Regions from separate parts of the Homo sapiens genome. Here all the other regions are linked to region 2. Evidence: fine-mapped expression QTL. A gene starts in region 2. Each other region holds a variant in brackets. All regions are shown on one strand. Distances are between the middles of the regions.

The links. PIP is the estimated chance that this variant, and not a neighbour inherited with it, causes the effect.
Region 1: its variant is fine-mapped to the expression of CACNA1H in CD4 T cells (BLUEPRINT, PIP 0.95).
Region 3: its variant is fine-mapped to the expression of CACNA1H in whole blood (TOPMed, PIP above 0.99).

The regions. Positions count from the first base shown.
Region 1 is chr16:1,191,653-1,202,376 of GRCh38, reverse strand. CACNA1H (calcium voltage-gated channel subunit alpha1 H) reads right to left here. Exons shown (of 35, transcript NM_021098.3): 3 at 7,294-7,405; 4 at 6,812-6,945; 5 at 6,354-6,451; 6 at 3,603-3,762; 7 at 1,806-2,121; 8 at 1,569-1,661; 9 at 1-714. LOC124903623 (a long non-coding RNA gene) reads left to right here and starts at 666. Exons shown (of 3, transcript XR_007064938.1): 1 at 666-733; 2 at 988-1,045; 3 at 1,156-1,571. RefSeq lists enhancers at 3,241-3,798, 3,799-4,358. The variant G/A (reference allele first, on the strand shown) is at 2,748.
Region 2 is chr16:1,147,325-1,158,048 of GRCh38, reverse strand. It overlaps CACNA1H (calcium voltage-gated channel subunit alpha1 H), which reads right to left and starts at 4,943. Exons shown (of 35, transcript NM_021098.3): 1 at 4,579-4,943; 2 at 4,013-4,329. The coding sequence starts at 4,311. LOC124903622 (a long non-coding RNA gene) reads left to right here. Exons shown (of 2, transcript XR_007064937.1): 1 at 1-402; 2 at 860-1,077. RefSeq lists enhancers at 3,322-4,089, 5,464-6,044.
Region 3 is chr16:1,205,244-1,210,459 of GRCh38, reverse strand. It overlaps CACNA1H (calcium voltage-gated channel subunit alpha1 H), which reads right to left. Exons shown (of 35, transcript NM_021098.3): 11 at 5,195-5,216; 12 at 4,171-4,356; 13 at 3,342-3,459; 14 at 3,030-3,185; 15 at 2,600-2,690; 16 at 2,239-2,447; 17 at 1,048-1,428; 18 at 325-425; 19 at 1-90. Among named protein-coding and RNA genes, the nearest start is that of TPSG1, 17 kb to the left of the region's middle. The variant A/G (reference allele first, on the strand shown) is at 2,520.

The DNA of each region.
Region 1 (10,724 bases), 44 kb before region 2:
GCCTGGCGGTCCACCGGCCCACTTCCCCTTGGGTCCGGGGCTGGTGCTGCCTTTGCCGCTGCCCACCCCTGAGGGCAGGATCGTGGGGTAGTTCATGGTGCCCAGCCCTGTGGCCAGTCTGAGGCTGGCAGCGGCAGTGGCTGCGGCATGTGCCACCCGGGCCCTCTCCTGCGGCCCCTCTATGTGGCAGTCGGCATGGTAGATGCTGTGCACAGACTCTGCGTCGGGGGGTCCGCGGCCTGGGGAAGGTGGCGAGGGGGGCGCGCCAGCTCGGACCAGCCTGGTGTCGCAGGCGCCTGGCTCGGGGCCGGGCCTGCGGGGGCTGCCATGGCTGAAATGGTAGTGGTGGTGGTGGTGGTGATGGTGGTGGTAGACCAGGTGGTGCACCGAGGCTGTGTGCCTGCCTGCCCGGCGCTGGCGGTGCCCGGGACCCTGGCCTTGCACAGCACTGGGGTCCACCTTCTTGCGCCAGCGGCTCTGCCAGCGGGCGTAGAGGCGCAAGCTGCGCCGCTTGACCTTGCGGAATATGTGGCCCACGTACTTCAGCAGCTCTTCGTAGCAGCTGCCAGGCTCGGAGAAGCTGGCCAGCGTGCTGTCGTTGGACAGGTGGCGTGCCCGCTGCTCCCGCATCAGCTGACTCTCCCGCTGCTTCGTCTCCGAGAACTGCGTGGCAATCACCACCAGGCACAGGTTGATCATGAAGAAGGAGCCCACCTGTGACGGGGGCGGGCGGGTAAGTGGCAGTGAGTGAGCGAGTCTCTGATTCGCCACTGAGCCCTACTGTGCGCTGCCTGTTCGAGTGGGGGCCGCGTCACAGGCACAGTGGGCGAGGTGCCCTGCTATGGGCAGGCTGCTGCGGTGTTCAGTGCTGAGCCCCCACGTCTGGAGCAGACGGCATACAGTAGCTGCTTTGTGCCTATCTGGACAAAAGACCTGGAACCCTCTTTCCTGCTTCTCCATGTGGCTCGGCCCCTCCTTTACCTGCAGATCTGGCCTTGAGATGACCCTCTCAACGGTGGCCACTCTCCCCTCCCCAGCACCCCAGGTGCGTTTCCTCCTTAGCATGGACCAGCGTGCAGCAAGTCTCTAATCGTTCGCTTCGCTTGCTCTCTCAGAACAAGCTGGGGACGTCTGTCTGCTTCTGTTACCTACTAGGTCCCCGCAGGGTGGCTCTAGGTATACCTAGGACCCCACAGACGTCTGCGGCCTGATTAACCCAACTCTGCCAGGACCCACTGGGGCCTATGAGAGGACCAGCTAAGGAGCACACCTGGGGCCACACACGCCCGTGGAAAGCGGTGCTGGGAGGCTATGCACTCCCCAGGGTGTTCCTGGCTCTTCAGCCCTGAGCCAGCACCCACAGGCCTGGACCCTGTCTAGGTGATGCCATGGCCTCTTGGGGTCCCCAGCCACACCTCCCCACCCCCGCAAGCTCTGCCTCCCTCCCCTGTGTGCTCCCTTCAGCTGGAAGACAGACAGGAGCCCCTATGACCACCCAGGTACCCCACCCCACCCCCAGCCAGCTAACACCAGGGCCCATCATGGCGAACACTGCCGCCCACACTCACGATGATGAGCAGGATGAAATAGATGAAGTTGTAGAATGAGTGGGCGTCCATGACGTAGTACATGATGTCCACCCAGCCTTCCAGCGTGATCACCTGGGGGGGCAGTGGCTTGACTTGGGCCCGCACGACCCCTCCTCCTCCTCCCCGTGCCCCTGGGGTCTGGGCTGGGGGGGGCGAGTCCTGCACCCGCTCCCCTGCCGTGCCCCAGGGTCCCCGTCCCACCATCTTGCCGCCCACCTGGAAGATGGCAATCCAGGCGTAGCCGATGTTGTCGAAGTTGATGGCACCGTTGTGGGGGTTGGAGTCACCCGAGCGGCACACGTTGTAGTACTGGTTCCAGTTGATGCAGGCGTTGCGTGCAGCGCCCACCCCCTCGGCCTGCGGCTGCGTGTAGGCCTCCCAGCCCAGGGTGCAGGGCATGCGCAGCTCGCGGCGGCCGGGGATGTGCGAGCACTTCTGCATGCCGTTGTCTCGGCGTGAGGAGCAGATGAACGGGTTCTCCTCGCCCTCCTCCGTCTGGTAGTACGGCCGCAGGAAGGTCAGGTTGTTGTTCCTGGGGATGGGCACAGCCAGGGCCAAAAGGTACAATCAGGGTCAGGGACGGTCAGAGTCGGGGGCACGATTGTGATCAGGGACGTGATCAAGGTCAGGGACGTGATCAGGGTCAGGGCCAGTGGACTAATCATGGTTAGGGAGGCACGGTTAGGGTCAGGGGGCATGATAGGACTGAGGGTCAAGACCCGGATCAGGGGACACAGCCAGGACCAGGGTCAAGAACACAGTGGTGCTGCAGAAACCACACTCTCCTCAGCCCAAGTCCACAGAGACAAACACACAAAGAACAGGGATGGACAGAGAAATCAACAAAGAACAGCACAGACAAACAGGGAGGGAGACCCAAGAGCCAGAAACCCAGGCTCAGACCTCAGCAACTCCTGGAAGCGGATGAGGGGCAAAGGGCAAGGGACGAGGGGAGGGAAGCCTGGGGTGAGGGAAAGGAGGCAGCCCTGGGGTGAGGGCTGAGAGGATCCAGGGGTGAGGGCTGAGGGCAGGGAACCCCGGGGTGTGGGCTCAGGGGACCCTGGGGTGAAGGCTGAGGGGAGACTCGGGGGTGAGAATTGAGGGGAGAACCCGGGGTGAGGGTTGAGGGGACCCCGGGGTGAGGGCTGAGGAGAGACT[G/A]CAGAGCAAGGGCCGAGGGGAGACCCTGGGGTAAGGTGTGACGGACTCTGGGGTGTGGGGAGGGGATGAAGTGTTGGGACTAACCTGTCTTGGGGGCTGAGAGGTGGCAGCACTGGGGGTGGGACATATGTGCAATGACCGCACGGTGGGTGGAGCCATGATGGGGGTGGGGCATATATGCAGCGACCGCACGGTGGGCGGAGCCATGATGGGGGTGGGGCATATGTGCAGCGACCGCACCGTGGGCGGAGCCATGATGGGGGTGGGGCATATGTGCAGCGACCGCACGGTGGGCGGAGCCATGATGGGGGTGGGGCATATGTGCAGCGACTGCGCGGTGGGCGGAGCCATGGTGGGGGGTGGGGCATATGTGCAGCGACTGCACGGTGGGCGGAGCCATGATGGGGGTGGGGCATATGTGCAGCGACCGCACGGTGGGTGGAGCCATGATGGGGGTGGGGCATATGTGCAGCGACCGCACGGTGGGCGGAGCCATGATGGGGGTGGGGCATATGTGCAGCGACTGCGTGGTGGGCAGAGCCATGGTGGGGGGTGGGGCATATGTGCAGCGACTGCGCGGTGGGCGGAGCCATGGTGGGGGGTGGGGCATATGTGCAGCGACTGCACCGTGGGCGGAGCCATGTGGGGCGGTGACTGCCAGCTGGGCGGAGCCATGATGGGGGGTGGGGGCGGGAGACAGCATGGTGGACGGAGCCATGACGGGGACAGCAGTGGCGGGGCGGGTGACTGCACGGTGGGCAGAGCCACGTGGGGCGGTGGAGCCACATGGTGCGTTATCTGCATGGTGGGCAGGGCCATCTGGGCAGGGGCCTCACGGGGGTGGGGCCTGGGCACCTGACAAAGGCACTGTCCAGGAAGCAGCGGTTCCGCAGGAGGCCAGCCCAGAGCTGGACGCCAACGATGCCGAAAATGAAGAAGACGAAGAAGCACAGCAGAAGGACGTTCCCGAGCATGGGCAGCGTATCCAGCAGCAGAGTGACCAGGATCCGCATGCCTGTGGGCAGCAGGGCCAGGATTGGCACTGCTAAGCCCTGCAGGAGTGTCCTCGGGGCTGCAGCCCCTCCCGGGACCCCCGAGCCCCGTCCACTGTTCACAGTGGGTGTCCACGCCCACTGCACACTGACTCGGGCCACCCCCTGGTGATTTTCCCGCACCCCTAGTGTGATCGGGACTCCCCTCCTACCACCACCGGCCTCCAGGGACACTGACACCCTGGGGTCTGACGTGCATCCAGCGGGGCGCCAGGTCTCCACCTCCAACCATCCCAGGGCAGCAGGTCTGCTGCTTTTGGAGGGCTGGGGTGTGGAGGGGCAGGAGTGGAGGCAGGGGACTGGCCGAGGCAGGGAACTGGCTGCGGCAGGTCTGACCACGTGGCATCTCGGGCTCGGGATGACCAGGCGGAGCCCAGTGGCCCTCGAGGCTTGTCTGGCGACACCCTGAAGTTGCCACCAAGGCAGCAGGAGCCTTGGGAGCCCCAGAACCTCAGGTGGTGGGCTGCCTCCTGGGGGTCTCTGCAGCAGGTCTGGGATCCTGAAAACTTTGTCTGATTCCCAGTGAGAATCCTGCCAGAACAGAGCCCCATCTCAGAGAGAGGCTGCTGGAGGCGGTGGGGAGGACCGGCAGCGGCTTTTCAGGAGGTAGCACTGAAGCCATCGGTCCTGGGTGCTATGGGCTACGTGAACTCCAGATTAATCCAGCAAGTGGGTCAGCCAAGCCCCACGCGCCCCTCGCTCCATCCTGGGCCTGCTCCCCCAAGACGTCCTTTCCCTCAAATTTAATCAAGGGCCAGGCTAAGGCAGCAGGTAAAGCCCTGGGCCAGGAACCTGGGGACGCTGAGTTCTCACCCAGCACCCAGGGGTATCAATGGCAAAACGGGCCCCTCAGGTCACAAGGGTGAGTCAGAGCCAGGAGGAGCACTGAAGTGTCAAAAGAGCCGACCGGAGCAGACAATCAGTGAGCACTGCCCTGGCCAGACCGCAACCGCCTCAAAGATCACAGATGACCCAGAGGTCAGAGTGGACCCCTAGCCAACAGAACAGGATGCAGCCCTGAGCGTGTCCTCATTATGAGAAGCGTATTATCCAGTCTGGAAGAGTTCCCTAGTTCTCTCCTAGAGACAGGAGCAGATCCCCAGGAGGCCAGGCTGCTGGCGACAATTAGGGCCACTCTGGCAATTTAACCTGAAAAGTAAACATCCATGGAAGGAAGGGGCTGTGTGTGCTGGGTTGCTTCACGCTTCAACAGGTGGGGCCAGGCCGGCGTGCAGACTGAACGTACAGTGGGTGCCGGGCAAAGGGCCAAGAGCCACACACGCGTCCCCTCACCGCACGCTCAGCCACCCTTGGGGTCATGGTTACTCCTGTACTGCACTATTCCAGGAGAAACTGAGGTTCAGGCTCAGCTAGTTGCTCAGAGTCACACAGTATTCAAGCCCTATCTGAGCCACACAGTAGAGCCAAGGCAGGCAGGTGGAAGGCAGGCTCAGGGACCAGCGGCACGAGGATGACCCACCTGCCCTTCGGGAAGCCAGAGGCCCCATGGGAAGGAGTGCCTAGCCTTGGGGGTCTGTGACTTTGGGGGGTTGCTGCAGGTCAAGCCCTGAGTGCCAAGGCCACCAGGACCCAGGTCAGGCAGCCAGAAAGGCTGTGTTACACCCGCACGTGCACACACGGGGCCACATCTACACGCAGTATGCACTCGCGCCTGGTACGGCCTCGTGGGGGCCGCGCCGACCCCCAGGAACCAGAGCAGTTGAATGTAGCCCTGAGTGCTTAAAGAACGATCCCACCCCATCCCCTGATGCAGGTGGGTGGCCCGGATTTGACAGGATGTTTCCCAAACAAGCAGGCATATGACTTCCTGGAAGCTCTTCCTCCGCCTCCCCTCACACCCAGCGCACAGCAGACACACAGCAGCTCCTCTCCACCAGGCCCCCTCCTCACACCTGCTGGCCAAATCCTGAAGGATTTCCAGCCTTCCTTCTAGAAAATCAGCTGCTCAGCAGGGGACACGGAGGCCCAGCCCTGGCCAGCCAACTTCCCCTTTCCTTAGGTGGGGATCCTGGCAGGAGAGTAGGGGCCAGAAGCAGTGGCGGGTGGGGAGAGCGAGGTGTCCTCAGGACAGGTGTCAGGCTCTCCCCTCACTTGTGTGGGTGTGAAGGCGGGGCTTCACAGAGCCCCCAGGTGAGCTGAGCCACACCCACAAGAGTGTCTCCACCACGAGCCACACCAGGATGCGCCAGACAGCAAAGCCACCAGGGATCTGCTCGGCCTCCAGCCTTGCCCCAGATGCCATGCAGAGAAGGAACCGGAGGTTCGGAGTGGCCCCTGTCACTCGGCTGTGTGGGAGCCAGGTACCCTGTGAATGCTGACTGCCCACCACACCGCAGCTTGATTCTCCCCTGACATGCAAGGCCCACGGATAGCGGCAGGGGCCACCCCACTGCTGGGGTCTGGGCTGGGGCCGGAGTGCCTGGTAACCTTCATTTCCCAGTCCTGTGCTCCTGGGGGCCCTTTTGAGAGCTCTGCAGGGCTGGCGGACACGCAAGCCTGTTGATCTCAAGCCCAGTCGGGGCCGGTCACTTACTAGGCACGCGGTTGATGGCGCGGAGGGGCCGCAGCACCCGCACGGTCCTGATAGCCGAGAGGCTCACGTTGTGTCCGTCCAACGAGTACTCCATCATGCTGGGGGCGGGGCCGAGGGGGAGCAGCTCAACAAGGAGCCCAGGTGGTCCAGGGTGGGGCTGGGGTGCAAAGTAGGGTGGGCAGGCATAGAACCGGCCAGCCCGGCACCCGGAGGACCTTGTACTGGCCAGGAAGGGCCCCGAGGTAGCAGGAGCACAACGCTTGGTCACATCAGGAGGCCACCTCCCTCACCTGTGCCCAGGAGGGAGGGTCTCCGGAGTCCCAGACAGGGTCCCTGGCTCTACCTGGATCCCTCTAGAACACACCTCCCATTTTTCTTTACAGGTGGGACACAGGGATCCCTGTGGGGTGGGCGGGGCCCCTTCGCCAGCGCTGTGGCCTCTCCCAGGCGGGGCCTACCCCGCCACGACGATGAAGAAATCCAGCCTGTTCCACGTGTCACCCAGGTAACACTTCTGCCCGAACAGCCCCAAGGCCACCATCTTGATGACCATCTCCACCGCAAAAAAGGCGAAAATGAAGGCGTCAAAGGCCTGCGGGAGGAGGCATCAGGAGGGCCCGTGGAACAGCTCAGCTCAGCCCACAACCCCCAACCCCAGCCCCGCAAGAGCCCGGCCCCCAGTCTTGCCACACCCCTCGCCCCGCCCCTGCCCCGCCCTGAGCCCCAGGAACTGAGCCCTGCCTCGCCTTGAACCTCGCCTCTCGCCCTGCCCCACCCCCAGCCCCACCTCGCGCCCCGCCGTGAACCTCGCCCTGATCCCCGACCCTGACCCACTCCACGCCCCACCTTGAACCTTGCCCCGCCCCCGCCCCACTCCGCCTTGAACCATAAACCTCGTAGCGACCCACGCTCCTTCCCCACCCCGACCCACGCCCCTCACCTCCAGGATGTTGCAGCGCTCGGAGCCGCACTCAACGTCCTCACAGGGCCGGAACATGCCCAGGGTCACGCAGTTGAGCATGATTACCAGCATGCTCACGTGCTCGAACCATGTGTCGCCGCGGGTTAAGGAGCACACCGGCGCGGCCCGGGACCCGCTCCCATGGGGCCCTCCAAATGCCCACCCGGTCAGCCGGAGCCCCGCCACGGGTGTGCGCGCGTGGGGGTGTCCAGGATGGGGTGGGGGACTCGGGACCGACGGCCGCCCCTCCTGAAAGCAGCCACCAGGTGGCGCCTGGGGCCTGCGCCTGGCCGGGCTCTGCTCCGTGAGGGTCCCAGGCCCGGCCCCCTGGCCCTCGGCGTTGGCTCATCAGGAAAGCGGGGTGCAGGAGCCCTCGGTGGGCTGGCCGCATCGGTAGTGAGGCCCCAGTGAGGGCCACTCAGACTCCCAGGGCCTAGCTGCCCACATGGGGCCCAGGTTGCATAGGGCTCCCGCGCTGGGGGGCTGTAGGCAGGGCACCCTGTGCAACTGGGAGGGCCCCAGGGCAGGGGGAATGTCGGGGCACCGCCATGCAACCCACCGGACAGGACTCCCCGTCCCACCCTCCAGGCCTGGACGGTGGCACAACTCGGGGCAGACTTTCCAGGGCCCCTGTCCCAGGGCTGCGCGGCCCCACCCTGACCAGGGAACCAGAGGAAGGAGGGAGAGGCAATCCGTCAGCTGACTGTGGACCCAGGAGGGACCTTCCTTAAGGTAGAAGCCGGCATTTGGAAAGCACCAACTTGTCAGCGAACAGCCTTGGGAAGTCAGGCACCAGCTCTGACAGTCCCTGCCGTCACCAACACGTGGGAACCGAGGAGGAGACAGAGCTGGGCATCCTCTCACAGCTGATTCAGGGGCAGCCCGGTGGCCGCCCCCACCCCTGGCTCTGGACTTGGGCCTGTGCTTGACTCTCGGGGGCCGCCCTTCCCAGCACCCACCTGGCGCAGACCACAGGCCTCAGCGCCCACGGCTCCCCCTCACCCCTGGCAGGCCTGCTTGGGACCCGGATGATGGTGGCAGCAGCGCCCCCTGCCCAACACGGGCCACGCTCACTACAGCGGAGGTCCTGGGTGCTGCGTGCAGCACTGGGGTCAGGGTCTGAGTGTCTCAAACTCTCAGGGATCACAGGAAGGGCAGCTGCCACGGTAGGAGGGGAACAGGCTTGGTGACGAGGGCCTTCCCTGCCCCCACCTGTCACTCCAGCCTGGAGCCCCTCCCCCAGGGACCCCAGCAGCTCATCCTGGAACCCTCCCTCCCACCAAGCCAGGGCCCAGCCTCCTAGCAGGTCAGCATTTGATGCCAGTGCCACGGCTCCAGGCCACCAATGTAATTACATATTCCCACCAAGAGTGCGGTAATTACACTTAATGGGTTCAGCGGTAACAGGCGCCTCTGCTGTAACACTGCTGCAAGAAAGCCGAAATCAGCCTCCCGCCAAGGCAGCTGGCATGCTGGCACAGCCACGCGCTGTCCCATAGGTGGGCAAGGCCACAGCACGCACTGCCGCCTACCGATGACGCACCCACTGCGACCCCAGCGGCCAGAGTGTGTGAGCGCCTTCACGGCAAGCCTCAGAGCACAGTCCTTGCTGGACGAGGTGGGGGTGGGGTTTGCGTGCCTTGGTCAAGGTGGTGGGGGCAGGAGCCGAGGCCCTGCTGTGGAAGCCGTGCCAGGCCCCTTGGCCTCTCCCAGCCTCCTGACCCGGCACTAGTGCAAGGGAGCGATGGTGGATGGCGGCTCCGCCCCCAGCCTCGGGCACCTTTGTCCCCTAACTGCCGCAAATAGCACCTTTCTGCGGGGGTGGCTGGGGACTGTCTTTGTGCATCTCTGAGGGCCATCATTTCCCGAGGGGAGGGGTTTTCTTGGGTAAACGGAACAGGCTGGCGGGGAGGAGCTCAAAGACACCCGGCCCAAACAGGACACAGCAGGCAGGTGTGGGGAACGGTGCTCCCTGACCTGAGCCCCCACGGCACTCTACCCCAGCCTGGCTGAGCCAGGGGTCTTGTAGGTGGCACTGCCTCTCCCTGGGCACAGGGCATCCCAGGCCTCAGTTTACCCATCTACCCAATGGGGGGTGGTGGGACTGCTTGTCCTGTGGGTGCCTCGGACCGCCTTTCTGTCTCCTCTCTCCACACTCTCCTTCAAGTTGGGCCGGCTCCCAACCAGCACACACACATTCCACTACCAAAGCAGGCAATTTCCAGCCACCCCTGGACTCCAGGACTGAGGGCTGAGACCCGCCTCCAGATGTCTCCAGCCATTGCCCGATTTCTCCCAGGCCTGCCCCATGTTTGCTCTCAGATCACCCCGGAGACCCCCCAGAAATGTCCAGGCTGGAGCAGAGGGTGCCCTAGGCTAGGGGGCTACCTGGACACAAGGCCTTTCACACCCTCCCTGTACCCCAGCTGGCCCCCAGCCACTTGCCTGACCCTGGCAGTTCCTGCCACCCTAGCCAGCTCAGGACTTTGAGCTAAAGCTACGGCATGGCCTTCCTGGCACTGAGGGGAATGCTGACTTCTGGACCCGGCCCAGACCCTGAGGCGGAGGGCCCAATGGGGACAGAAGGGAAGGGGCCAGCACCCCTGACCAGCCATCTCTAAGACTGTCCAGCCAGCAGAGTGGAGTGGATGGTGTCAGAGCCCAGGGCCCATCAGTGCCAGTCACCATGAAAGCTGCCCACGGCAGAGGGGCTGGCAGGGGTGGGTGGCACCCAGTGCCTAGCAACTCCTCAAAGACAGCTGACTAGGGGTCCCCAGGCCAGGGTCCTACCTGGACACCTTTGCCCCCTCTGCCATGCCACTGAGACCCACCCCAAGCCTTTGTGACTGGCAGCGAGGGAAGCCAGGAGGGGGCCTGGGTGCCCCTCCCCGACCTCTCGGACCGTCTGGTTTAGTGGGGGATGGGGTGCTGTCTTTTCCAAGCAGGGGTGTGGCTCCAGTGAGCCCCTCCCATCCAGGTGCATCCCCCTCCGCCAAAATCACACACACAGCAGAAGACCATAGAGGGGCAAGGTTGGGCCTGCAGGCACGCCAGCTGCAGACGGCCTCCCGAGCTAAGCCTGGCGACAATGGAACCCCAAATCTCCCGGACCTGCGGTGCTGCACAGGTGACGGCTCGCAGAGACCCCGAGTGTGCCTGAGGTCACACAGCCAGGCCAGCCTGCTGGGTCACCAAAACCCTGAGTGTGCCTGAGGCCACACAACCAGGCCAGCCTGCTGGGTCACCGAAACCCCGAGTGTGCCTGAGGCCACACAGCCAGGCCAGCCTGCTGGGTCAGAGACCCCGAGTGTGCCTGAGGCCACACAGCCAGGCCAGCCTACTGGGTCAGAGACCCCGAGTGTGCCTGAGGCCACACAGCCAGGCCAGCCTGCTGGGTCACCAAAACCCTG
Region 2 (10,724 bases):
CTGCAACTCTCCTTCCCGTCAGAATGCGGGCAAGGGCGCCACGGGCAAGGGTGCCACGGGCAAGGGCGCCACGGGCAAGGCACGGGCAGCCCAGGGTCTCCGGGAGACACGCGCCCTAGCACGGCCGAGAGAAGCCGGGCCGTGGGTCGGGCGCAACGGCCGAGTTCACACCCTGGTCCACCCAGGCAGAAGGGACGGGACGTCCAGTCTGTAACGGAGACTCTGCCAAGCCCCACCCTGCTGAGTGACCCCCAGCTTGGAGTTCAGGCCCAGGGGTCAAGGGACAGCTTTGGGCCCTCCTGGGCCTGTGACTTCCGACCACTGAGGCAGCCCCTCTGAGACCAGTTCGGATGTCCGGACGCTGCTAAGACAAAGTGTTCAAGAGGGTCCCCACGATGCAAGGTCAGTAGGGGACGACCAGCCCCGTCCTGCCCACGAGAGGCCTGCGGGGCACGTGGAGCCCGGGGAGGCGGGCGCAGGCGGGACTGGCCCTTTCCAGACGGGTGCCCTCTCACACTCCCGGGGGACGCCCGCGGAGCAGCGTGACAGCCCCAGCGCCGAGTGTTCAGAGATGCCATGAAGGGCTGTCTCAGGCTCCCGCAGCTCGTCCCCACCCAGGCAGCGCTCTGCCAAACACGTGGCCCTCAGAGCCAGGATGGGCTCACCCAGCTCTGTCCTTCAGCATCCCGATGACCTTGATATATCCTTCCCCATCTCAGAGCTCCGTGACACGGGGTGTTTGGAGCCTGGGCCCCGGGAGACGCCTCCCAGGGGGTCCTGCCAACCCCCAGCCCCCAAGCACCCCTTGGTCACCTTCTGGTCCCTACACACCCACAGCCCGCCTCCCTCGCTCTCGCAGGGACCGAAGCAGGGTCCCCCTTCCTGGCCTCCAAGCATTCCCGGGGGCCCCGCCCCGTCCGTGTGCCGGGACGGCGGCAGCTGTGTCGCAGGCGAACGCGGAGTCAGGAACCCCGGGAGTCCGGGCAGCACATAACCCAGCCGGGCGACAACACACAGATCCCACCCACCTTTCTCTATAAATAAACCTGTGGAGGAGAAGCAGCGCTCGCCCCAAAAGTTCTAAGACAATTATATTTTTAAGAAACCAATCAATAAGGATAAGGGCGTCCTTGGAGGCTCCTTTGCCTGGGATGGAGTCACCCTGGAGATGGAGCCAGCACGCATGTGCTCCCTGGTGCTGAGCGTCTACCCCGGGGTTCAGGAGAGGTTCAGGGATAAACGCGGGCCCTCCCCCAGGTTCCTGTGCTGACTGAACCCCGGCTCAGGCTGGGCCCGGCGGACAGCAGCTGGGGCTCTGCCAACCCCCGGGAGCATGGAGTCACTTTACTGAGTGTGGGTTCCCTGAGCAAATCCGATTATCCCTCCCTCTCAGAGTTCACCCTCTTCAGGAGGGATGCGGGGCCCTGCGGAGGGAGGGGAGGCTGAGGCCCAGGAAGCACCCTCTTGCTACGGGACACACCCCAGCCACACCAGTCGCCCACCGCCCCTGCCGCCTCCTGCAAAGCCTCCCCCTCCCAACTCCCAGGAATCTGAAGCGCTCTGGAAAGCCTCAGCCATGGCCCACATGGGCTTCCCCGGCTCAGCCAATCCCCCCACCTGTCCAGGCCTGCCAGCTTATTTTAGGTTCTCTCTGACGCCAGGACACACACCCTCGCTACAGGCCAGGCATCTGCTGGTGGTCACACCCACCCCCATGCAGCCGGGGCCTCCACAAGCCCACTCCACCTGACCGACGGGCGTTTCCACGGGGCCAAGAATGAACCAAGCTTGGGGTCTAAGCTCTGCTTCCCATGTCTCCTGGAGTGGGGACACCCCCCATCACTGCGTTTGGAGCTGGGAGAGCCAAAGCGTGCCAGAGGTGCTGGCGGCGAGGAGGGTGGGGGGTCCTGCCGTGCCGCAGGCAGACCCAGTGCTCCAAGCAAGGGATGCCATCGAAGGGCAGGAGGCCGACCACCCATTCTCTCCCAGCCCAGAGAGCCCTGGGGACACCAGGGATGGGGCATGCTCTGTTCTTCCCAGGCTGAGAGCACCATCCAGCCCCCGAGACCAGGACAGCACCCAAGTCCCTCTCGGGCTACCAGAGCATACTCCTGTCAGGTCACAAAGCCCAAAAGGACAGCTCCTCAGGACACCGGGGGACAGCGCTTGGGTCACGTGATGCCGCTGGCCCCAGCCCTCCTCTCCCCCTGGAGAGCTCATCCCACCTGCATGAGGCCACCCAGCCAACACCTTCCCTGCACACAGCAACGCAAACAACCTCCTTGGAAGTCCTGAGACACACAGCCAGCCCAGAACACCGGGGCCAGGCTCCAAAACTCTCTCAGCCGAGAGGGGACAGGACAGCCAGGCCCGGGGCTGTGAAGAGAGTCCATGCCCTGCTTGGGGATGGGGCAGCCAGGCCCGGGGCTGTGAGGAGAGAGTCCAGGCTTGCTCAACTCTTTCCCTTCTCCGGTCTGCACACGTTGGGAAACAAGGAACGCAGGCCTTGGCTCGGGGCCAGCCTCCCATTCCAACCCATGCAGTCCCTTCCAGACCCTTCCCCATGGCCTGCTGGCACCGCCGGACTAACCCCACACCCAGTCACCTCCTACCAGAACAAAGGGGCATGACCACCTCCCGCCTTGGTTCTAGAGAGGAGACAAACCTACAACCGCTCTTCAAGGCCGGGCCTGCACCTCGGCTCCCGGGGACACCCACCTACTCGCAGACACCACCCTGAGGCTACAGAGGCCTAGGCCGCCCGGGCAGCGGGTGTGGGGCTCCGAGGCAGCCCTCTGGCCGGGGCCGGCTGCCCCCGGGACCACAGCAGCCTCCTCTTCCTCTACAAGCAGAGATGAGTCTGACTCACTCGATGTTTGGATTTGAGAAAGGAGAAACACGGGCTTTATGACTTTTTTTGTACAGATTCCTCTTTCGTGTTTAATATTTGTACAGTTAAACACACAAGGTAGGGAAGTGTACACAGGCCGCTCCTGCTGCCAGCCTGTCTCCCCACCTCCGACGGGGGACGTCTGCGGGCAGGGTCTCTCCACCCGTCCCCAGGCCCGGAGCAGAAGCCACGGCCTGGCCACCCCAGCTGCCGGCTCAGAAGGGCCGGTGGGGAGACCCGGCCCTGACACAGGCACCACGCAAGGCCCTTCTCAGGGCACGCGGAGACCCGCCCCCAAGGCCACCTGCTGGGGGGCCCCCTGGACCTCCGTGTACATCCCACAAATGCCCCTGGCCCTGACCCAACTCTGTTCTGGAACCTTCTCTGCAGTCTGTGCCGCTCTGGCCGAGAGTAGAAGAGGCTGCCTCTTCCTCTCCAGCCAGGGAAGGGGCTGGGGAGATGAGACTCCCCCTTGGCAGTGCCAATTGCCTCCCTGCCCCCTACCCTTCAGCTGCGCATGACTTAAGTCAGCCCCGCCACCGAGTTCAGCCAGAAAAAGCGAGTTCACAACCAACGTCACCGCCTCTCTCCACGGAAAAGGCCCTGGCGGCGCTCACAGGCCCCACGGGTCTCCCCACGCACTCGGAACCACCAGGCGCCGGCTGAAAACTTTGCGCCCCTGACTCCAGCTCCTCTGGCCTCCCCCTCCCCCGCGAGGGGCCTGCCTCGGGCAGGACCTTCAGACAGTGAGGGGTGGGCAAGGGGGAAATTCCCGTCCTGGCCAACACCCTTGGGGCCGCGAGGAGTTAGGACCTTCCCTCCCTCCCCGACTCCTCTCCCCTCCAAGCCCGCGGGGGCCTCACCGCTTCGCTTCCACCTTCTCCGTCCGGAGCCGGCCCTGGGGAAGGGAGTCCGGAGGCGCCCGGTGGCCCCCCAAGCCCGCCACTCTCAGAAATTAGAGCGCGGTCCTCCAGCCCCTGCCCTGCACCCCCGCGCGCCCGGCCCACGCCAGGTCCCACCAACAGGGGCGCGCGGGGGCGCATGCCGAGGGAGTCCCGCGCCCCGGGCCCCCACCCTCCCCACGCCCCCCGCCCCCCGCCCCCCGCCGGCCGGGAAGGATATGGGTTGCAGACCAGCCGGAGGCACCAGCTGCGCGGCCGCGTGGTCTGACCGAGGCAGAAGAAGACCGTGGCCGCCAAGGCCGGGTACGGGACGCGCTGCTCCTCGTCGGCACCCAGCTCCGCGCCGCGCTCGGCCGCCGGGCTCTCGGAGGGTGACACGCCGAGCTCGGACCCCCGCTCCGCCTCGCGTCCCGGCGCCCCGGGGCTCTCCGGGGACGCCCCCACCAACGCCGCAGGGCCAGGGGGCGGCGCGCCCAGGGGCACCCGGACCTCGTCGGCGGCCCGTGCGCCCTCGGTCATGGTGGCGGCCGGCAGCACCTGCAGAGGACAGGGGGTGACCCGGGGCCGGTGGCGACGCCCCCGCCCTGCCTCCCGCGGCGCGGAGCTGCGGGAACAGCCGCGGCCGCCGGGATGTCTTTGTCTTTTCTTATTAGAGACAAACGCGCCCCCCGCCCCCGCCCGCCCCCTCCCTCCCTCCAGCGGCCCCACCCCCACCCCGAGGGGCTCCCCGGCCCGCTTCGCGCAAGTTGAAGAGGGTCCCGGGCGCGCGTCCTCGCCGCGTCTCACCTCGCTCTGCTGGCCGGCGGCGTCCCCGCGGGCATCGCCCGGGCGGCGCGGTCACCGCGGACCCCGCTCGGCGCCCGGCCCCGGCCCCGGCCCCCAGCGCCTCCGCCCCCGGCCCCGGCCCCGGCCCCCAGCGCCTCCGCCCCCGGCCCGCGTCCCCAGCCCGCCCGGCTCCCGGCCGCGGCTCGACTCCGGCTCCGGCTCGCCCGGCGGAGGCGACGGCGGCGGCCTCGGCGCGGCGTGGAGGCCGCTGAGCGGACGGGTGAGGCCGGGGCGCGGGGCGCGGGGCGCGGGGCGCGGGCCGGGGACCGGTGAGGCAGCGAGCGAGCCTCGAGCCCGTCCGCGCGCGGCGCAGGAAACTTCGGGCTGAGCGGCGGGGGGCGGGGCGGGGCGGGGCCGGCGCGACCGGGGCGGGGCCAGCGTGGCCGGGGCGGGGCCGGGGGCGGGGCGGGCGGGGGGGTACTGGGGAGGATCCGCCCCCGGCCCGAGACGCGCGCGCCCGAGCGACCCCTCCCTGTCGCCGCCCGGCGCCCCGCCCCCCCCCGGGTGCGGGAAGTTGGACCCCGCCCGCGCCCCCTCCACGCCCCCGCACTGGGCTCCCCGCTTTTCGTGCTCCCCAACAATGCCGGGCGTGGGGTGCACCAGGGGGCGCTCGCGGGAGGCTCCGGCGGGGTGGGAGGGGGAGCACCTACGTCCTTCCCTGCCCCCAACTGCGGGGGCGGCCGAGCCGCCGATGCCGCGCCCCTCCCCCTCCCGCTCCGGCTCCCCCTCCCCCTTCGCGCTGCCGCGCGCGCCGCCGCCGCCCCCACCCCCACCCCCACTACGACGCGGGCCCGGGTCGGCGGAGGGGCGGGGACCGGGCGGGCGTGGAAGGCGAGAGGCTGCGTGCCCCTTCCCCGCCGCGTGTGTGTCCCGGGTGTGCCCGCGCGCGCGTGTGTGATGGGGCGCGGGGGCGGGCGGGGGTGTGCTTTACGGCTGGGCGCTCCTGCACTCGCATCTCTCCCCGACACGCACGGGCAGTTTCCGCGAACTTGTCCTCGTCTCCGGTCCCCTCCCGCGTGGGGATCTGGGGGACCCTGGGGACGGCAGCCTGGTGCTCCTGCATCCTCCAACCCCGCTGCCTCAGCGAGACTCACCCAGGGGCCCCCGAGGAGAAGTGCAGGCCCCTTCCCCCTGCCAGCAGCTGCTCCTTCAGCCAGGCCAGCAGAAGGGCCTTCCCCTGGACCCTCAGAGCAAGTGGTTTGGTCGGGAAGGGGTGGACCCTTCAGACATTGGGGATGGCCAGGCCCTTGTCCCAGGGAGGGCTGGCCGCACCTCGAGGTGCCAGCAGGTGGGGGCAGGTGCCCAGGCTCCTGACTCCCCCCAGGGCACCCCTCCAGGCTGGAAGGGTGGTTTTGCTTCTGGGACCACTGCTTTGTGCACCAGGGAGCTTGAGCTCCCAGGTGTGCACCTCAGCACGCCCGCCAACAAGGGGCCCCTGGTAGTGGGAGAGACCCCTTCTCCCTCCAGACAAAGAGGCCCTGCTCCAGGGCGCACCCTGAGACCCCAGACCCGGAGAGGCTGTGGGGCGGCTGTGGCTTCCCACCTGCGGGTGAGCAGCAGAGAAGCAGGACCTCCCCCGGGTGGGCCACATCGTGCAGGGTGAAGAAGAGGCCCTGCCCAGCTGGGGCCCGGAAGGACACACAGCACCTGGGGTGGGCCGAGGAACTGGAAGGCAGGAGTGTGGGGGCCTGGCTGGGGTACAGGTCCTTTCAGCAGCACCTCCTCCTGTATACGGGAACTTTCAAGAAAAGGAAAACATTCAGTCTATTTTAATGCAACTACTCAGCGATGGAGGGCCACAGCTGGTGAATTAGGCCTTCAAAGGTCCAATTAAGGTTCCAGCCACAGAGGAGCAGGACCTAGGAGAGCCCCGTGCTTTGGACACATCCGTGGAGGGAGGCTGGAGCAGGTGGGGAGACACAAACGCTGAATCGGAGTCCGGTCCAGAGGGCACTTGGAACCTCTGATCTTTTTATCAACACCCTGCTCGTTAAAAGTTAGGGTGGGCCAGGTGCAGTGGCTCACGCCTGTAATCCCAGCACTTTGGGAGGCCGAGGTGTGTGGATCACTTGAGGTCAGGAGTTCGAGACCAGCCTGACCAACATGGTGAAATCCCGTCTCTACTAAAATACAAAAATTAGCCAGGCATGGTGACATATGCCTGTAATCCCCGCTACTCGGGATGCTGAGGGAGGAGAATCACTTGAACCCAGGAGGCAGAGGTTGCAGTGAGCCGAGATCACGCCACTGCACTCCAGCCTGGGTGACAGAGTGGACTCTGCCTCAAAAAAATAATAAGTTAATTAATTAATTAATTAAAGCTAAGGCAAAGCCACAGACTGAAGCTCCAGATTCTAGCTGGGGGCTGTCGTTGATTTGCTGGACAAATGGTAGTTGAGGGTGGACAGTGCGCGGGGCCCGGTTGGAGGGTGGAGGTGCCTTGGCTGTGACCAGACAGACCCGGTTCTCATGCCTGCAGCTTCCGTCTTATGGGGAGGAGAAAACAGTTTCCAAACTAAGTGCCAGGGGGCGCCCAGATAGACGAGGGCGGGGCCTCTGTGAGGACAAGCCGGCAGCCGGAAGAGGAGCAGAGGCTCTTTCCAGCAGCAACGGCAGCCCATGCAAAGGCCCTGTGGCAGGCCGGAGGGAGCCGGGGAGCGGGAAGACCCAGAGGGCGCCTGGGAAGCATCTTGGAATTCTGAACACAGCAGCTGTTGCCCTCCCGGCCACACTCTGTCCTCCAGATGTCGGCAGAAGGGAAAAAGACCACGGACTTCTATAACAGACTTTTTTTTTTTTTTTTTTTTGAGACATAGTTTCGCTCTGTATCACAGGCTGGAGTGTAGTGGCGTGATCTCGGCTCACTGCAAACTCCGCCTCCTGGTGTCAGTTCAAGCGATTCTCCTGCCTCAGCCTCCCGTGTAGCTGGGATTACAGGCATGTAATTACCATGCCCAGCTAATTTTCATATTTTTAGAAGAGACGGGGTTTTGCCATGTTGGCCAGGCTGGTCTTGAACTCCTGACCTCGTGATCCGCCTGCCTCAGACTCTGAAAGTATGGGGATTACAGGCGTAAGTCACCGCGCCCGGCCCACAGATTTTTTTTAAAGAAAGTGTCTGTAATCTGAGAAAGCGTGCAGTCGCCAGGCATCCCACGGACAATTTGCAGACCAGTTGGAGCCTCTCCAGCACCCGGGCGGGCATTTTCCAGCTCAAGGTCTGGGACGGAGGCTGCCTCCCACCGCTTTCCGTTCACTCCAGCCCATCGGATGGCGTGCCCACCTTGTCCTTGGGGGCTCTGTGTCCCCTGGGCTGCTGCCCACTGACTTGCACGCTCCACGTCCGGCGGGACAGGTGCCCGCACGCCTGGAACATGGATGCTCCCTGCTCTGAACATCCATCTGCCGGAAGATGAGGCAGCTGAGGCCGCGTTCACGCAGCCGGAGCGGGGACCACCTCAACGCGACGTGAGGGCCTCCACCGAGAAAGGACATAAACGGCAGACGGTCCAGTGAGACGAGACGGGAAATCGTCCTGAGAGCGGTGATGCCGTGATGCGCGCCCTTCGCTGAGCGTCAGAGAGAAGCCCAGGACGGTTGGAAACCGGCATTGAGATGGTTTAATTCAACTCCAGAACGTTCAGATGTATTGTTTCTAATCCTCCAGGTCTCTGGAAAATTTGCTTCTGGTTTTCGCTGTTTCCTTTTTTCTTTTTTTGGCCGGGGTTGTTTTTAAGGGCAATGCTTTTCTTTGACAAAGAGCTGCGGGGAGAGAGTACAAGTGACCTCCTAGCTCAGCCATCATGTGGCGGAACCCAAGAAGGTGGGGTGGGCTTCTCGGGGTCTCCCACGGATTTCAGCATCCCCCACGCTGCCCAGGGGAAGGAGGACGTCGGCAGTGGGGCCCGGCATGGCAGCGATGGGACAGGCACGCCCTGACTGGTCCTCAGCTCCCTGTAGCAGTGGGGCCCGTGGCTGGTCTGCCAGAATCTGGACCAAGGGCTGGTGGACAGAGTCCTCTCCTGGCAAAGCCTGGAGAGCCAGCCGTGGCGGTCACTGCCTGGTGTCCAGTGAGACCCCTTCTCCCAGCCAGCTCTGGGTTCTGCTGCTACGTGTGGCCTGTGAGCCGGGGACCCAGGTCACCGCCACCAAGGAGGCTGCCCACGCGGCCAGGAAGCCAGGCCCCGGGAATATGCAGACAAGAGGGGCGTCCCTGCCTAGACTGGCCCCTGCAGGGATCGGCCTCCAGGGCAGGCAACAGGGCCTCTCACTGACACAGGCTCGGGCCCTGCCTGGCCAGAATGCTTCTTCCCTGGGAGCAGCCTCGGTGGGGCCCCATTGAGCCGCAGACTCAAGGGCAGGACGGAGCCCGGTAGGTCGCCCCGAAGCATGGCGGGCTCTCACCTTTGTCCTGCCATGGAGTCAGAGACACGAGACCCTGGAGTGGGGAGCAGGTGAGTGTCCTTTGCTCCTGCCTAGCATCCAGTAGGTGCCAATAAATACCTGCTGACTGGGTGGCTGAAGGGACTGCGCTGGCATCCCAAGGAATTTTGGGATCCACCACCCTCGAGACCGTGCTGGGCGGGAAGCATGACCCCACACTGTGGGATGGGGAGCCTGGTGGCTGCCGGCTGGCGCGCACCCCAAGCCCTTTCCTGGGCTCAGCTGTGAGCTCAGGACGGTTTAGACGCAGCAGCAATGATTTTAAGAGTTGCCGTGTTAAACGGTGATAGCCTGTGACGGTGCTGTGTGCGGAAACATCCGATTTTATTGCCGCTGGGTGGACAGCGCCGTCTAGACGCCGCTCACCCTTCTCACCTTCGCAGTTGTCTGTGTGGAAGACGGGAGAGGCAGGGGCACCACGCCACTGTCCCCAAGACCGGCCCCCAGGCACTGCGCGGAAGAGGCCGTGGCCTGTGAGGTGGCCCTTCCCTGCCCTGGACAGGCTGTGGAGGGGCTGCAGGCGGAGGCTGGGCTTGGGAGTGCTTGAAGGATCACTGGGCTGTGGAGGGGCCCGCAGGCCGCCTGGGGACCTGGGGAGGGAAGCTCCGGGCCTTTCTCTGGCTCTGCAGACGCACGGCCTGGGTTCAAATGCCAGCTCCACCACTTCCTGGCTGTGTGGCCTTGGACATGTGTCTTACCCTCTCTGAGCCTTAAATTTCCTTCTCTGGAAAATCAATGCTTCATCAAATAAAAAGTGATCATGAACAGGCAGTTCCTCAAATGATTAAATATGGAATTACCATGCAACCTGGCAATTTCTGTTCCGGGTGTGCCCAAGAGGAATGAAAATGTGTGTCCACACAGAACTGTGGACTCGGGTGTCCACAGCAGCATCGTTCACAAAAGCCAAAGGTGTAGACATCCCAAGTATCCCACAGATAAGCAGATAAAATGTGGCCTCTTCATATGGTGGAATATTATTCAGCCATGAAAAGGAATGACACAGCCGGGCGCGGTGGCTCACACCTGTAATCCCAGCACTTTGGGAGGCTGAGGCAGGCAGATCAGGAGGTTGGGAGTTTGAGACCGGCCTGATCAACATGATCAACACGGAGAAACTCTGTCTCTACTAAAAATACAAAAATTAGCCGGGCATGGTGGTGGGCGCCTGTAGTCCCAGCTACTCAGAAGGTTGAGGCAGGAGAATCGCTTGAACCCGGGAGGTGGGGCTTGCAGTGAGTAGAGATCACGCCGTTGCGCTCCAGCCTGGGCAACAGAGCAACATTCTGTCTCAAAAAAAATGACATTCTGACACACGTGGATGAACATTGAAGACATCACACCAAGTGAAATAAGCCAGACACAAAATGACAAACATCATAGGATCATTAGATGAGATTTTCAGCACAGGTAAATCCATAGAACAAAGAGGGGTGGCTGCCAAGGGCTGGGGGAGGGGGGGTGGGGGAGGGGAGACGTCTAGCAAGCAGAGGGTTTGTTTGGTTTGGATGTGTGGCCCCCCCTCCAAATCTCATGTTGAAACGTGACTTCCAGGGTTGGAAGTGGGCCTGGTGGGAGGTGTCTGCACCAGGGGCGGATTCCTCAGGAGTGGCTTGCTGCTGTCCAGTGATGATGAGTGCTTTCTTGCTCCAGTAGTTCACACA
Region 3 (5,216 bases), 55 kb before region 2:
GCGATGGTGACGCAGTTGAGGAAGATGAAGACGAGGACCACGTGATCAAACATCTTGTGTGTGATGACCTTCTGGCAGGAGACGCGGAACCTGGGTGGGCGGGGGCGGGTGAGAGGTGGGGCGGGGCGGCGTGGATGGCAGAGTGGATGGGGGTTGCAGGACAGCCCTGGCCACGCCTCCACTTCAGCCCCGGTCCCTGCGGTGTGAGAAGGGGTGCCCACTCGGAAATATCCACCATGTGCTAGCCCCACCCAGGAGGGACCTGGGGGCGGGGGTCCCGTGGGGTGGAACTAGCCATGCAGCCTCCTGACCCGGCCGCCTCACCGGTTCTGTGGGGAGAAGAGGTAGAGGGCCCAGGCCTCGCGGCTCCGGCACCACTGGGGCTTGTAGGGCTCCAGCACTTTATGCAGGCGGAGGCAGCAGCTCTGTGGGATGAGGCGGCGGCTTCTCAGAGCCTGCGCCTGCCTGCCCGGCCCCCCATCAGGGCCCTCTGTGCTCAGCTCGGCCACCCCTCCCAGCACCTTCTCAGCCTTCTCCATCCTCACTCCTCACCCGCTGGCCTTTGGGCTCTGGCTTTCTGGCCTCTGGGGCCCATACCGTGGAGCCTCCCCCTTCCCTACGCTGGTGACGGCAGAGTGACCCGTGCTGGAGTCCACGGGGCCAGGTGAGCGGGTGCTCTTGGGTCCCTGACTCTGGGAGTGGTCCTTGACCCACGGAAGCCTGAGAGCCTAGCGGATGCCTGGCCCTGCCTCGGCAGCAGCTCTCGGCCAGTGGCTGACCCACGGCGCAGAGCCCAGCCCCCGTATGCAGGCCGTGCGTGGAGCGTTTAGCTCACAGCCCCTAGACGGCAGAGGGGGGACTCTGGGATCATCTGTGGCTGAATCCCTGAACACTGCTGGATTCCTCCCTGGCCTGGCCTGCTTCTCTCCCCTTCTGAATCCCCTCAGTCAACAACACGCCCTGAATCCCATCTCAAACCCCACTTGAGGGAACCTGCCCCAGACAGACGAAGGCGAGTCGGCGGTGGGCCCAGGGCCACGCACTCACGTCCTCCGAGTCGTCGTCAAGCTCGGCTGCATCCTCACGGTGGCTGTCGATGCGCAGGAAGAAGTCGCTGGGCAGGGCCACCACCTGCCCGTCGCGATCGCGGCACTTGGTAGGCGGGAGGGCGGCCGGCCGCAGGGGCCGTGGGTCCAGGGACTCGGCCCGCCGCAGTGGGGTGGCACGGGGCCCGGGCGCGGCCCTGCCGTCCTCAGCTTCGTCGTCGGTGCTGCCCTTGCCCTCGCCAGACAGCAGGGACTCACGTTCCCCACACTGGCCGCGGCGCTTGAGGCTGGGGGCACGGCCCAGGCTGCTCCAGCTGGAGCGCCGGCTGCTCCAGGCGCCACTGGGGCCCCAGGGGGCACAGGGAGAACTTCGGAGGCTGGCCTGGGGGGTGGCGGGAGTCAGTGACCTGGTGGCATCACTATTAGCACCGACCGCTGTCATTACGGAGCACCCACTGTGTGCAAGCCACACGTGGATCATTTAATGCATAGCCCCGCCAGGGAGGCACGGTGGAGGCTGTGATTTTAGGGGGACACCGAGCCAGCCACAGGCGTAGCTCATGAGGGTCAGGGTGTCCGCCTCGCGGGGGTGATGCCCTGGGCTCTGCTGGGTCAGGGGCCAGAACCAGCCCAGGACCAGACAAAGTGTGGGTGGCCCCCGTGTCCCCAGGAGCACACTGGGCCTGCGGCTCTGCCTCACAGCTGCCCCGCTTCCTCCCCTGCTAGGGCGTCTGGCTCACTCCCATCCTCCGTGTCTGTTGTGGGTGGTACTGCCTGGAGTTCGTTTCAAAACTGCTCCCCTCCAGTCCCCCTGGACCCAGAGAGATGCCCTGGCCGTAAAGGGAATCGGGCTGCTTCTGGTGGCAGCGGAACCCCCGCCTGGCCTGCCGTCTGCTTGCCGGGCACGCTTCTGCCCCTGCTTGCTTCGGTCTTTCTGTGCTGTGCGCTGTGCACTCTGCTAGACTGTTGGGCGCACAGAGCTTCCGCGTCTGCCCCTTCACACCGGCCTCACACAACAGCAGCCACAGCTTCCATTTCCGGAAACCAGAACACTCTTTCTCAGTCTCTGCACAGGCTGGGACTTCAAGGGTGTGGGGGGTGCGGCCCTCACTCATCTTCAGGGAAGGCCATAAGGAGCCAGGCAGGGAAAACCTGAAGGGGCCTGAGAGCTGGGGCAGGAGATGGTCCCTACCGGAGGCTTCTGGTCTCCCAGTGGCGGGTCCCCGGAGCTGCTGCTGCCACGCCGAGAGTCTGGGAGGCTGGGGGCTGCATCCAGGAATGGTGAGCTCTTGGGGGTAGGCATGGGCGTGGCAGCTGTGCACATGATGAGGGGAGGGGACAGGCTGCCTCGTCCCTCCAGGTGCCCGTTGGGGGTCACGGCCAGGGAACACATCTTCAGCTCTGCGGGACAGAGGGAGGAATGGGCCCCTAGAGCTGCCAGGCTCCCAGGACCAGGAATCCCCCAACCTAGGG[A/G]TTGCCTTATGGGGGCCCTGCCCGGCCAGCCCAGCGTACTCCACCCGCCAGAACCCGGACCACCCACCGACCACACGCACCTGTGGTCTGGAGTTCTCTGAGCTTGTGGAAGTCCTCCTCGAAGTGGACCGACGTCTTGTCCTCGTCCGTGTCGGATCTGTTGGCATCGCCCTAAACCCAACAAAGCACAAGGCAGGCATGAGGGGCCCCGTGAGTGGGGACCCTTCATGCCGGACAGAAGTCTGGGCTGGCCTGGGAGGTGGGGTGTGGACAGAAGGGCCCAGAGGATGATGTCACTGCCAGGGTGGGCAGGTAGGTGAGGAATCTGCCTCTCCCGACCGACCCCTGCCCACTCCGCTGGGCTCCTGGCCTCCCCTCTCCTCATGGCAGCCAGCTTCCCTTCTCTATCCCTCACCTCTTGGCAGGCCCCCCACACCCCTCCCCTCGACCTGAAGCCCGTCTCTCTTCTCATCGCCCTCCTCCTGGCAGCCCCTCTCCCTGCCCCCTCACCTCCGCCTGGAAGCCCTCCACGAGGATGGCCACCAGCAGGTTGAAGAGCACATAGTTGCCGAAGGTCATGAGGGCCACGAAGTAGAGGGCGGCCCAGGAGGAGGTGGAGGCCATGCCGTTGTACAGGACCACGTTCCAGTCCTCCTGGGTCAGGATCTGGGGGATAGCAGGGGGCCTGGGGTGGTCACCCCAGCCCCGAAATGCCGGCAAGTCCTTGGGGCAGAGGCAGCTATGGATGCGCAGGACGGCACCTCCACCTCTCTGGGGACCACACTCAGCACCCAACACTGCTGCGGGGACCCCGGGCACTACCTGGAACACGGTGACGATGGCCCACAGCAGGGAGTCGAAGTTCTTCCTGTCAGGCACGGTGTCTCCGGTGTCTGTCTTCAGGCTGAACTTGCAGCCGAAAAGGTGCATGCCCAGGATGCTGAGGGTGGGGGCAGGGGCGTGTTGAGGGTGGAGGCAGGGGTGTGCTGAGCGGAAGAAGGTGGGGGAGCGGGAGGGGGGTGGGAGGAGGGAGGGGCAGGACTGGCTCTGCCCGTCTTGGCTCTCCTGGCCTCCTACCCTCCCTGGGCGCCCGAGCTCTCTAGCTTAAAAGGGACTTCCTGCCCTACAACTCAGTAGTGTCCATTCCACAGGCGAGAGAACCAAGACCAGAGGCGGGACAGACAGAGGGAAGCCACTCTGGATTTGGGTGGCAACTGGAACCTGGGACACCTGCCTCATTCAGCCTCTCTGGACTGTGAAAGCCCGGCCTGCCTGGCTGCCTAGCCTCCAGCCGACCCTGACCCTGAGCTCCAGGCTAGACGGGCACACAGCAGGCGCTCAGAACACCCCAGTTGGAGCCTGGTGCCTGCCCCCACCCCCGGTATTCTGCTCTTGAGTAAATCCCCAGCTTGTCCACCTGGCGGCCCATCTCTGACCCCTGCCATCTGACTCCCTGCATGTCTAACACGTGGCACACAGTAGGGGCCCAATCAGTGCTTCTCAAATGAAGGCAGCAGAGGCCGAGTGTCTGCAGATGCTCTGGGGCTGCTGGTGGGAGGGCTCCTTCTCCTTCGGGGGGTGCCCTGGGCCTTTGCCTCCCAGCTGCCCTGGGGTGAGACACTGGGCGGGCCGGGAGGGGGGTTGCGCCCACCTGAAGATGAAAATGAAGAGCATGAGCAGCGTGCAGAAGGTAGCCACGTTGTCCATGGTCTTCACCAGCACCACGAGCTGGCGCCGCAGGGCTGGCAGAAAGCGCACCAGCTTCAGCACACGCAGCAGCCGGAAGGTGCGCAGCACAGACAAGCCACCGTCCGCCTGCCCCACGATCTCCCAGACGCTGCGGACAGGTGGGGGCGAGGGTCAGCGGGGCCACGATCCCTGACCCCAGGCCCTCGTCCCACTGGAAGCAGGGTCACCAGCCAGGGAGCCACAGCGGCCTGTGCTGCATCCCACAGATGGGAGAGGGTATGGCTGCATCAAGGTGCATGAACAGCTGCGGAAGCACCTCAAAAGCCGCTTATCCGCTGATGGCCCCGGGGGCTACCCGGCCCCCAGTGCCCCCTGGGAAAGAAGCCTGGCTCTGGCCAGGGCAGGGAAGCTCCTTCGCCGAGGGCGCTCTCCTATCCTGGGCCTTCCACAGCCAGACCTGGCTTGTCCGTTCTGCTCACTCCCTCCCCGCCCCAGGATGGGAGACCCTGCACCCCTCTCTACTCTTGAGGGATGAGCGTCCTCCTAGGGGAAGACCGGGGGCGTTTCCCCTCAAATTTTCCCAATCCTTTCTGGTTTAATTTTCTTGTAGCAAATGCTCCTCCAGCAGCAAGCAGGATTCAGCCTTTTAAGCTGGTCTTTCTCGCTCGGCCCTGAGGCCACCCCACACCTGCTTTGTTCCTGCAGGAAACAGCTCCGCTAGTTTCTAGAAACATCTGAGACGCAGCTGACCTAACAGGTGCGCACCCCGTAGTGCCTGCAGGGAAGCATAGCGTCTGGGGAGGGGACTCTGCCCAGGACGGTCCCTTGGGCCACTGGGGTCACCAAGCACCTGCTTCCCACGGCCTGTCATAAAGAGCTATCGTCGTACTTCCTCCTGTGCTCTGGGTTTTGCTCTGCAGGTGGGATTTCTGCCAGAGAGTGGAGCTTCCCGGGCCCCTCTTCCTGGGGAGAGGGTGGGGACCCACCTGATGACCACGATGATGCCGT